Homo sapiens: one gene and its partner. The protein of the gene in region 2 purifies or fractionates together with the protein of the main gene of each other region. This does not show direct contact. Each region holds a gene or a part of one and is shown on either strand. Other genes may lie near its edges.

Region 1 (4,905 bases), on a different chromosome or scaffold from region 2:
TCCAATATGTGAGCCCAATCTAAGGGCTATGCGCTATTTTAGGCACTGATGATACAAGAGTGAACAAACCAAATCAAAATCCTTGTTCTCATTGTTTATATTCTTGTGGAAAAAGACAAATAAAAAGGAAGGGAGTTGTGTGCTAAGAAGAAAAGGAGTATAATTGTGTGTGTATACACACATGTATGCACTCTGCCTCACTCCAATTTTAGACAAGGTAATCACTCAAGGCCTCACTGAGAAAGGTGACATTTTAGTGATGATTTAGAGAAATACTTGGGAGTGTTTGGTGTGGCTGGTGTATAGTGGAGGAAGGGAAGAGTGATTGTAAGGTAAGGCTGGAGGGACAGGCAGAGGTTGGATCCTGAACGGCTCTACCTACCATAAAAAGGAGTTTGAATTTCAGTCTAAGTGCAATGTGAAGGAACTGAAAAAATTCAAGGAAGTAAGGATGGTATGTGACATTAAACAAAATCATTATAGCTCTTAAAGAAAGGATTGTAGGGAAGCTAGGATATGTAAATAGAGACCCATTAGGAAGCCATTACAGCAGTCCAAACAAGCAACAATAGCTACGAGGGCAAGGTCAATGGTAGTGCAGAAACTGGGCAGATCTGGGAAATGTTTTAGAAGTAGAGTCAATAGGGTTTGCTGATGCTCTGCATCCAGGCAGGACAGGTGTAGAGGAAAAGAGCTGAATCAAGGAAAACACCTAGACTGGACAACAGTTTACTGAGGGATAAGAATGATGCAGATTTTTTTTTAATAACTCAGAGTTTGGTTTTAGTCATATGAAGTTTAAGATGCCTACTGGATATCCAAGAGGAGATATCAAGTAAGAAGGTAGAAACGTGAGTGAGAGGATCTATGGAGAAGTCAGACAAAGAGATACAAACTTGGGAGTCATTAGCATGTAGTCAGTTTTTCTAGTCAATCAGTTGGAAGAGGTAACCAAAAATAATATGGAGATAGTGGAGTAGAGGAACTGAGCTTTGAAGCAGTTCAACATTTAGATCACAAGAGAGGAGAAGGAATGGGCAAGGAACAGGAAGGAACAGTCAATATGGTAGCAGGCAAACTAGGAGAGAGTCAGAGAAGCCAAAAGAAAAAGACGTTCCAGAAGGAAAGCAGATATAAGGACAGTGAAAGCATATGCCAGTGGCTCTAAAAGTGTGGTCTCCGGTTCAGCAGTATCAACATCACCTGGATATTTATTAGAAATATAAATTCTCAGGGTGCAACCCAGAATTATAGAGTCTGACGGTAAGGCCAAGCAATCCATGTTTTACCAAGCCCTCCAGGTAGTTTCAATGTTTGAAAATCACTGCATTCAAGGCTAATCCATTAACAACAGATAATAAGGCAAGATATTTCAGTGGAAGCCATCACACAGACCAGAGAGCTCTCCCTTGCTGTTTATATTATTTGTGGAAGCTTTCCACAGCACCCATATGTCATCTTGGGCAGGAGAAAGGGAAAAGGAAAATCCTTATGGGGGAAGACTGAATTTTGAAATAACCGAATTAATCTTGAAATTTCTGAGTACAAAGATACATAAAAGAGGTAAGTATTACATGGAAATTATCCTTGTTGTGGCAAGATTAAATGCTTTTCTCTACTGAGTTGAAAAGAGGAATGACTCATAATTAAACAGTAGTTTATAGAAAAATAGTTACATTTCTTAACTTTTAAAAACAAGTAAGAAATACCGGCAGGAGGACAGGAGTTTGTTTTGTTTTGTTTTGTTTGTTTTTTTGAGACAGGGTCTCACTCTGTTGCCCATGCTGGAGTGCAGTGGCGCGATCTCAGCTCACTGCAGCCTCTGCCTCTCTGGCTGAAGTGATTCTCCTGCCTCAGCCACCCCAAAGTAGCTGGGATTACAGGCTTGTGCCACCACACCCAGCTAATTTTTGTATTTTTAGTAGAGTCGGGGTTTTGCCATCTTGTCCAGGCTGGTCTTGAACTCCTGAGCTCAGGCGATCTGCCTGGGTTGGCCTTCCAAAGTGCTGGGATTACAGGCGTGAACCACTGCACCTGGCCAGAGACAGGAGTTTTGTGCTTTAAACAAAAAAGAGTATAAGCATATATCCATAAGAGTAGAAGATAGAATAATCAGATGATATATACAATGGATAAAGTTGTTTCCTGGTATATTTTGCTCTCCTTCCCCCCATTCTGATATTAGCTCTCTAAGGGAGAAGTCTGAATGGGAATTAGAGGTGGCAGAAGGTGCTACGTAGCATAAAAAAAGCTTCCCAGGGCATTCCAATATACTTCTCATTCCTTTCTTCAAGAAATAACATTTTAAAGAAATGCAATTTTATTATCTGTATAACGATAATGCAACCTTATATTTAACAATATATTACAACTTGTAAAGCTCTTTCTTACAAATATGATGGAGTTTGAGTGTCACCATAAACCCATGAATATATAGGATTTTTTATTCCTACCTTAGAGAGAAGAAAACCAAGGCTCCAAGAACTGAAGTTACCTATTCAAGGATCATGTAATTAGTAAATCAGAGTCAGCTTTCAGGTATGTTTCATGGTGCCAACAAAACAGAGGCCTGCCAGGATTTGGTCCAGTGCCTGGTACAGAGAAAAATGCTACTCAAAGGCAGCAAGTATGATAACTAACAACAATTAACTTTTCAAAAGATTATATTCGAATCAGATTTTAGCTGTTTAGAAGGGGGTTTTAAAAAGCCCTAATCTCCTTTAAGAAAAGAGTGAAGTTGGGTTAATAGAAGGCTTGTGTATAAAGGGCTTATGGCAGTCTCCAAAGATGGCTGTCAACAATCCCTTCTCTGCCTGTCTCTGCTTAAGAGTTCTATTTTAGCCTCCTTCACTGATTCTTCCTTCCTCTGTCCAAACCTTAGATGTTGCTACTTTCCAGGGTTCTGTCCTTGGCCCTTTTGTTTCTGAATCTGTTCTCTAATCTCATGGATTCATACTCTCAAATCTCTCCCATCCAGGTTTTTTGCCCAAGCTCAAGATATATTTAAAACTGCCTTTGAGACTAAGGGGTCCTACAGGCTTATTAAGTTCAATATGTCAAATACTGACTCCATTATCAGTCCCTCACTTGTGTATATTGTAGTTTACTTGACCTTAGTTAAGTAGATTTACAGATATTATCTCATTTTAATTAAGTCAATTCTCACATTTTAGAAAGGTTTTATTTAGAAAGTACTTATTGCAACTTGAGCCATGATCAAATGATAGTATGAAACCTTTCATCTCCCATTGTTTAAAAATACCGACTTCATACATACACACTGAAAACTGAGTATACAAAATAGAAAGTGTTTTGTTTTACCAGTGGGAGACAGACAAACAAAAAATTGTGGACACCACCGCTCCAACAGGAAACGCTGGTTAAGAAAGTTCATTACTGTCTGCACTCCACCTCTCAGGCTATGTAAAACAGCACTCCACTGACTGGGGAAAATCTTACATGTGTATAGATTTTTAAAAAATATATCACATATTTCTAAGAAAATGTTTCAAATGCAAATATCTTGGTAACAAATTTCCTTATTGTATTAATCAAGAACATAAAATCGTGGAGAAGATCAGATGTAGAATAATAGTATGTCTGGACTGCAAAGGCCAAGCCTAAAAACACATAAGGAGATTATGTACATTATTAGATAAGGAATGAGCCAATGTTACAAACTACAGAAAGCAAATTTGATATTTTTCTTGACATATGGTAGATCAACAGAAAAAAAGTGGCATAGATGGCCACTCTTGAGACATACTGGCAACTGAGGTAAACAATGAAAAAACTTAATATTCAAGTTGTAAACCACTGAAAGAAGGCCACTTTTTATTTACTACCAAATTTCTAGTCCAAGTTCACAAATCAAACGTGCTTTCTGAACCGTATTCTTTTCTGAATAATACAGTTTATTTGACACACTGTAATTAACAATTAGGTTTTTTGTTTTTTAAAATTTTTTATAGAGACAGGGTCTCACTATGTTGCCCAGACTCGTCTCAAACTCCTGGCCTCATACAATCTCCCACCTTGGCCTCCCAAAGTGTTGGGATTACAGGTGTGAGCCACCGTACCTAGCCCAACATTATTTTAAATGACTGTTTTTTCCCCAAAGATGAATTTTCATCAAGAGTAAAAAAGAGAACATATCAAGTTACAAGTATTTCCCCATCACACACATCCAACTAAAATGGTGACATACAAATAAATATTTCAGATATTCTTCATAATCCTTCATTTGTAAAAAACAGAGGAATGCAAAAAGGACTTTGGTTTTAAAAGGGAGGTCAATTTGGAAATATTTCCTTCTAAATTTATGAATGTTTTCTAAATCAAAATGTTTTTGATTAATTACTTTATGATAAGCATTTCTCCCCCTATGGTTGAAACCTCTTTGTTTTGGGTCTACAACTTTAGTCTCATACAATTAAGTAGATTTAAATTTAATTTCTTAATAAAAAATACAGAAGAATATGAGATGGTATATAGAACATTTCCATGCAACTACTATTGAAAGGCACAAAAACAAAAATCAGGTTTTGTGTGTTTGTGTGTTATTTTTAAAGAAATTCCTTTAAAAATTAATTTCTTTATGATGTAAGATGACTCCATTCCTTCAGACAAGTCATGTTAAAGAAAACAACCAAACACACACCTAACCTAAATGGAAAAGGATGTATGCCTTTGTGCTCTTAATTTATTATTAAATAATTCTTTTAATTGTTCTGAATTCATGTTATTTTTAGTTCAGTGACTACAGCTGTCAGTTTCATTTGGCCCTGTTCTATGAACTATCTGAATGGACCCCTGGTGATGCTGGCATTGTTCTGGCTGGAAATGCGGAACAAGACAGAACAAGCATAGATCATACATTTATTAGTTAGGACTTGGAGCCTCCAA
Region 2 (5,320 bases):
ACTTTTTAAAGGTACCATTCTGGCCTGAGATCTTCTGTAAATCTATTCCTAGTCTTTCCATTACCATAAATCTGTAACTGTAAGAAAAAAGCATCAAAAAGAGATCATCCTGAGAAAGTAATGCTTGAAACTGTCTATTTAATTTGAAACAAGAAAAATTACGCTCAACCTAACAACTAAGTATAATGCAATCTAAACCATTAGAGAATGAATGCACGTTCATAATTCTGCTATTCTTTTGCAGAAACTGCTCAATATTTACTTTGCAGCTGATTTTCTATAAGAGAATGCTGTACTGAACCATTCACACTGTTTTACATAATGAAAAAATCTTTCTAAATTAGATAGTACTGAATGCAATTCATTTTGACTCCATGACTTTCTTGCCATATGGCCTTGAACAAATTATTGTACACACTTGATTTTTTTTTTGAGACAGAGTCCCGCTCTGTCACCAGGCTGGAGTGCAGTGGTGCAATCTCAGCTCACTGCAACCTCCACCTCCCAGGTTCAAGCGATTCTCCTGCCTCAGCCTCCCAAGTAGCTGGGACTGCAGGCATGCACCACCACACCCAGCTAATTTTTGTATTTTTAGTAGAGACGGGGTTTCACCATGTTGGCCAGGATGGTCTCGACCTCTTGACCTCATGATCCGCCTGCCTTAGCCTCTCAAAGTGCTGGGATTACAGGCATGAGCCACCGTGCCCAGCCACATGAATTTTATATTTGTTTGTTTCTTGATAAGATCATATATACCGTCTCTATACATTTATAAACATGTCTTTAAGTGCACTTCTTCCTTTTCTGTTCTGTTTGGCACCTTCCATACCTTCTTTCCTTCCCTTCATTTATATATCCACATCAGCCCCTATTCTATATCTATGCATGCATACACAAACACACACACTTAGGAATTTGTTTTACAAAAATGTGATCATATTATAAGTATTTTCTCCATCTTACTTTTTTCAATAGTATCTCATCAAAATCCTTCTAAGGCAACTAGTATAGCTCTAATGGACTTCTTTAATGGGCTACATATGACATGATATGGATGTATCATGATTCAATCAGCCATTCAGTCCCCCAGTGGCAGTCCTTTACTTCAAGATTACTGTTTGCTCATTTTTTTAAATTTAAAGCATTTAGAGACCATTTCAACAAAGTACTGACATCTGAGCTTATTCTCTCATCTATGGAATAAAAATAATATCACCTATTTTAACAGGCTATTCAAAGGACAAAATAAGATAAAGTATATAAAAGTCTCTGGCACAAAAGGGTAAATATAAAATGACACACTTTTTTTCTTTTTTCAAACACTATTAATAAATTATATATAGGACTAGCCATATTTGGTGGTTTTAAAGATATTTCTATAACTTATTTGTTGTGCTTCTCCTCAAGAGATAGAACTGAATTCTCCTCTCTCAGGACCAATGGATCTATCTAGTGACTAGCTTCTAGCAAAGAGAATAAAGCAGAAGCGATAATATCCCTTTTAAGATTAGATTACAAAAAACGATGACTTCCTTCTTGAATGCACTTGTGTGCATGCTCTCCCCGTCCCCCAATTAATTGCTCTAGAGAAAGCCAGCTATTTTTCATAACACTCAGGTAGCTTATGCAAAGACCCACATGATCAGGAAGTAAGAAGGCCTGCCAACAATCACATAAGTAAATTAGAAGTAGATCTTCTTAGGCCTACCAGTAGCCACATGAGGAACCCTGAAAACAAATACTTCCCCAGATGAGCCTTGAAATGAATGTAACCCAGCAGACAGCTGACTACATATCCTTATTAGAGATCCTGATCTAGAATCATACAGATAAGCCACTTGCAGTCTCCTCACTCACAGAAACTAAGACAATACAAGTTTGTGGTTATATGCCAATATGTTTTGGTAATTTGTTACATGGCAATAGTTAACTCATAGACCACATAAGGAATAGTTATAAAGAAATATTTGATTATAATAATTCCATTTTACCTTCTTCCCTTGAATTCAGTCAGACCAGATCCATAAAACAGAGGAATTCCTAAATAATCAAGTTGTTTGCGTTCTATCCACTTTTTGACTACAAAGACAAATTTATTTTTAAAAAGATTCATGTTATTTGAAAAGATACTTGTCACCTTTCTACAGACAAATTTATTTAGCTAACCAAAAAAGTAATTAGATCTTCCTAGAAGATAATTTTTTTTCAATCAAACATCTCTATCTAATGGCCTCAAACTGTTACCACTATAATTAACAAAAAATTAGAAATTTTTAAATTAAATCAATAAAAACAAGTCATAGGCTTTGTATATTGATACCATATATATTAATGTTTCAATCTATAAAAAGAATTCATTATCTTATATACTAGCTAAATTTCTAAATATAACATATGTTAACCACCAAAAGATCAGTAGAGAGATGGCTTTTTCTTCCCTATTACTTCAAGATTTAAAACCATAATGGACCAAAAAAAAAAAAAAAAGAAAAAAAAAGCAGAAATTGGGCAGAAAAACCATCTTACTTTGAAATTACTTTATACAAAAACTGGTTTTGATTAGTTTACAAAAAATCAAATCCACTTAAATAAAGTTAACTTTCATCATTTTTTTCATGACTCTAGCCTATGTTTTTTATGTTTAAGACAGCTCTACTGATAAACAATCAAGTTTAATGGATTCTATTTGTCACTGTGACATAGTTTAAGCAATTAGTAAAGATTACAGTCTTAATGTTTAGAAGACTTTATTAAGAAAAACTAAGTTAAATATTGAGGTCAGACCCATCACTCTTATTCTTAAACATGATGTAAAGGACCTTGACTATACAGTCATTACTCCTGTCTACTTCTTTAATGTTTTTCTTAGCCCATCTATATCACATTTATAAAATGCTGTTATTTTTCCTCTCTGCTTATATTCATTTCCCATTCAAGTCTTCTAACTGGTCATTCTTACACTTGGTATCCAGCTCCAATTAATTTTCCAGCATTCAAGTTTCTAACATTTTCTTAAACATCTTAAAGTTTAATCATTTTCACATTTCCACACACCTTGCCCCAATCCATTCTACAATCGTTCTTTTTTTATACATATATCTACTTCCCATTTTAATGTTTTTTCCTTATAGCCGTCCTATCCAAATGGTTTACTGTAAAAGAAATAATTTCATTCTACTATCTTTTACACTTAGGGAACTCTTGGTAGCTTAGATTAACAACCTAACATTTTATGTAAAGTAGTAGAAACAACTTTGACTTAAAATATATAACCCATTATGTATGTCATGTCAAGATTTGTATACCATCTGTCTTGCTTTTATATGTTGTAACAGTTAACTGTATCACTTTACAATAAAATTTCTATTGAAAAGAATTTTCCAGAAGGCCAGAAAAAGACCAAAATATCAACACTCACTTTAGCAAGCACATATATGGAAGTAGCTTGCTTTGCTAATTTTACTTACTACAGTCTTTTTTTGCAACTCTCTGATAAAATTTAAGTTCTGAAAATAACGGGCCATTTTCTTGATATTCCTATAAAAAAAAGAATAATTAATTTTACTAGAAAAAAATAATCCCAAAGATGGAATTGTTATTTCAACTGTGAAAATATGAACATATATATGTAGTATATAATAGTACTTGAATCACTTTTTATAAAACATAGGCACCAGATTTCCACTAAAAATCTCAGAAAACACTAAATAAACTTGAAGAATCTAATTTTTAAACGACATATTGTACCACTATCCCTATACAGTCTTACACATAAAAGTAGTTTTCTTACAGAGAACACTTACTAGAAGCACTGAGAACTGTATACATAAACATATACAACACTCACTGTATACCAACATATACATCCAGGTGATACACAGCAAACTCTCCTTGTGGTCCACTCACACATGATACCTTTACTGAATGGTCTACTATATTTCATTCATTATACTAGGTACAGGGGACACCAAAAAGAAATAAAACCCTATGCTTGCCTTTAAGGACCTTACCATCTTGATTAGAGAGGTGGAGAGGGTGGGAGGGCATTTGGGAGGGAAAGAGAAAGAATAGCTAGATAGATAACACACCAGGGTAATAGCTGGCAATACAGAAAAACAAAGGTTCTCCAGTTTTAATGTTTTAACAACGTCAAAACAGATGATAACATTAGGTTTACTGATAAGGCAATAGTTACAAAAATTAACGTGAAAAACATTCTTAAAGCAGAAAAGGAAAAAGTCAAATATATGTGAAATACAAATCTATGAGCAACACTTACCACTTTTACTACATGTCTTGCATCTTTCTCTGGTTTATTTGTGGGGAAAGCTGCAGACAAAAAAAACACACAATGGAGAAAAATAGTTATTCCCAATTACTGAATACCTACCATATCCCAAACACTATGCTAAGCATTTTACATATGTAAGTTTATTATGTCATCCCAACAACCTTTTATGGTAGTAGGAATCAATCATCTCCATTTTATACAAGATGCTACTGAAGTTTGAGACGTTGAATAAATTGCTCACTAAGAGGTAATATATTAGAGACAGAAACTCAAATCTGCCTGACATCACAGCCCATACACTTGATCATAAACCATATTTAAATATTTAAATACAGAATCAATAGACAATATGAATCATATAGATCCAAAATGTGGGGGGAAATATTTTATAGATATATGGCATTAAAGCCAATATATAATACACAGTAAAATCCATTGATTCAATTGCACTAAATTAGAACTCATAATGATTCAGAAATAAAAATCGATTCAATTTAAGTAGAAAGTTCAAAACAATTTATACTTGACAAAATTCTAGAACAAGCAAGGTTAAAATGAGAATAAAGTCTTTAAAAATTTCTTCTGAACCTGCTAATCAATTACTTTTACATTAAAGAATACATATCTCATAAATTCATTTCAAGTTACCTTACTTCATTTAATTCTTATTTTCCATTTGTTGTTCAGATGGTATAACCCTACTTTTAAAAACTCCAGTGTTCACATTTTAAAACAAATTAATCTTTTCCTCTACATTACCTAAATTATTAAAAGATTGTTTTCAAATCTCAATAAATTTACATGTATATTTATTTGTACTGCAAAAGACTAAAACTTCGTCATTTGTTCATTTGTTCACTCTCCATCCATTCATTCCTTTACTCATTTAAATAGCTAAAATATTTATCAAGAAGCTAGAATATGCCAGGCACTGTGTTAAGTGTCTGGATGATATCTGAAGGAAAGGGAAAGGAAAAAAGGTGGAACTAGTATTGACTACAATTGAAAATCAGTAAGAAACAGACTTGA

What was found. Proteins that work in one complex are often made in the same cells at the same time.
Region 1: the proteins of VRK2 (region 2) and MAP3K7 purify together in Homo sapiens (pull-down; 2 studies listed by BioGRID and IntAct, with this or other methods). This does not show direct contact.

Annotation. Positions count from the first base shown.
Region 1 is NC_000006.12:90,576,535-90,581,439, forward strand, and holds part of MAP3K7 (mitogen-activated protein kinase kinase kinase 7), read right to left. Parts: intron 1-4,905. UniProt on the Homo sapiens protein: Serine/threonine kinase which acts as an essential component of the MAP kinase signal transduction pathway. Plays an important role in the cascades of cellular responses evoked by changes in the environment.
Region 2 is NC_000002.12:58,083,098-58,088,417, reverse strand, and holds part of VRK2 (serine/threonine-protein kinase VRK2), read right to left. Parts: intron 4,330-5,320; coding exon 4,280-4,329; intron 3,538-4,279; coding exon 3,468-3,537; exon of another isoform or gene 3,419-3,467; intron 2,080-3,418; coding exon 1,992-2,079; intron 78-1,991; coding exon 1-77. UniProt on the Homo sapiens protein: Serine/threonine kinase that regulates several signal transduction pathways.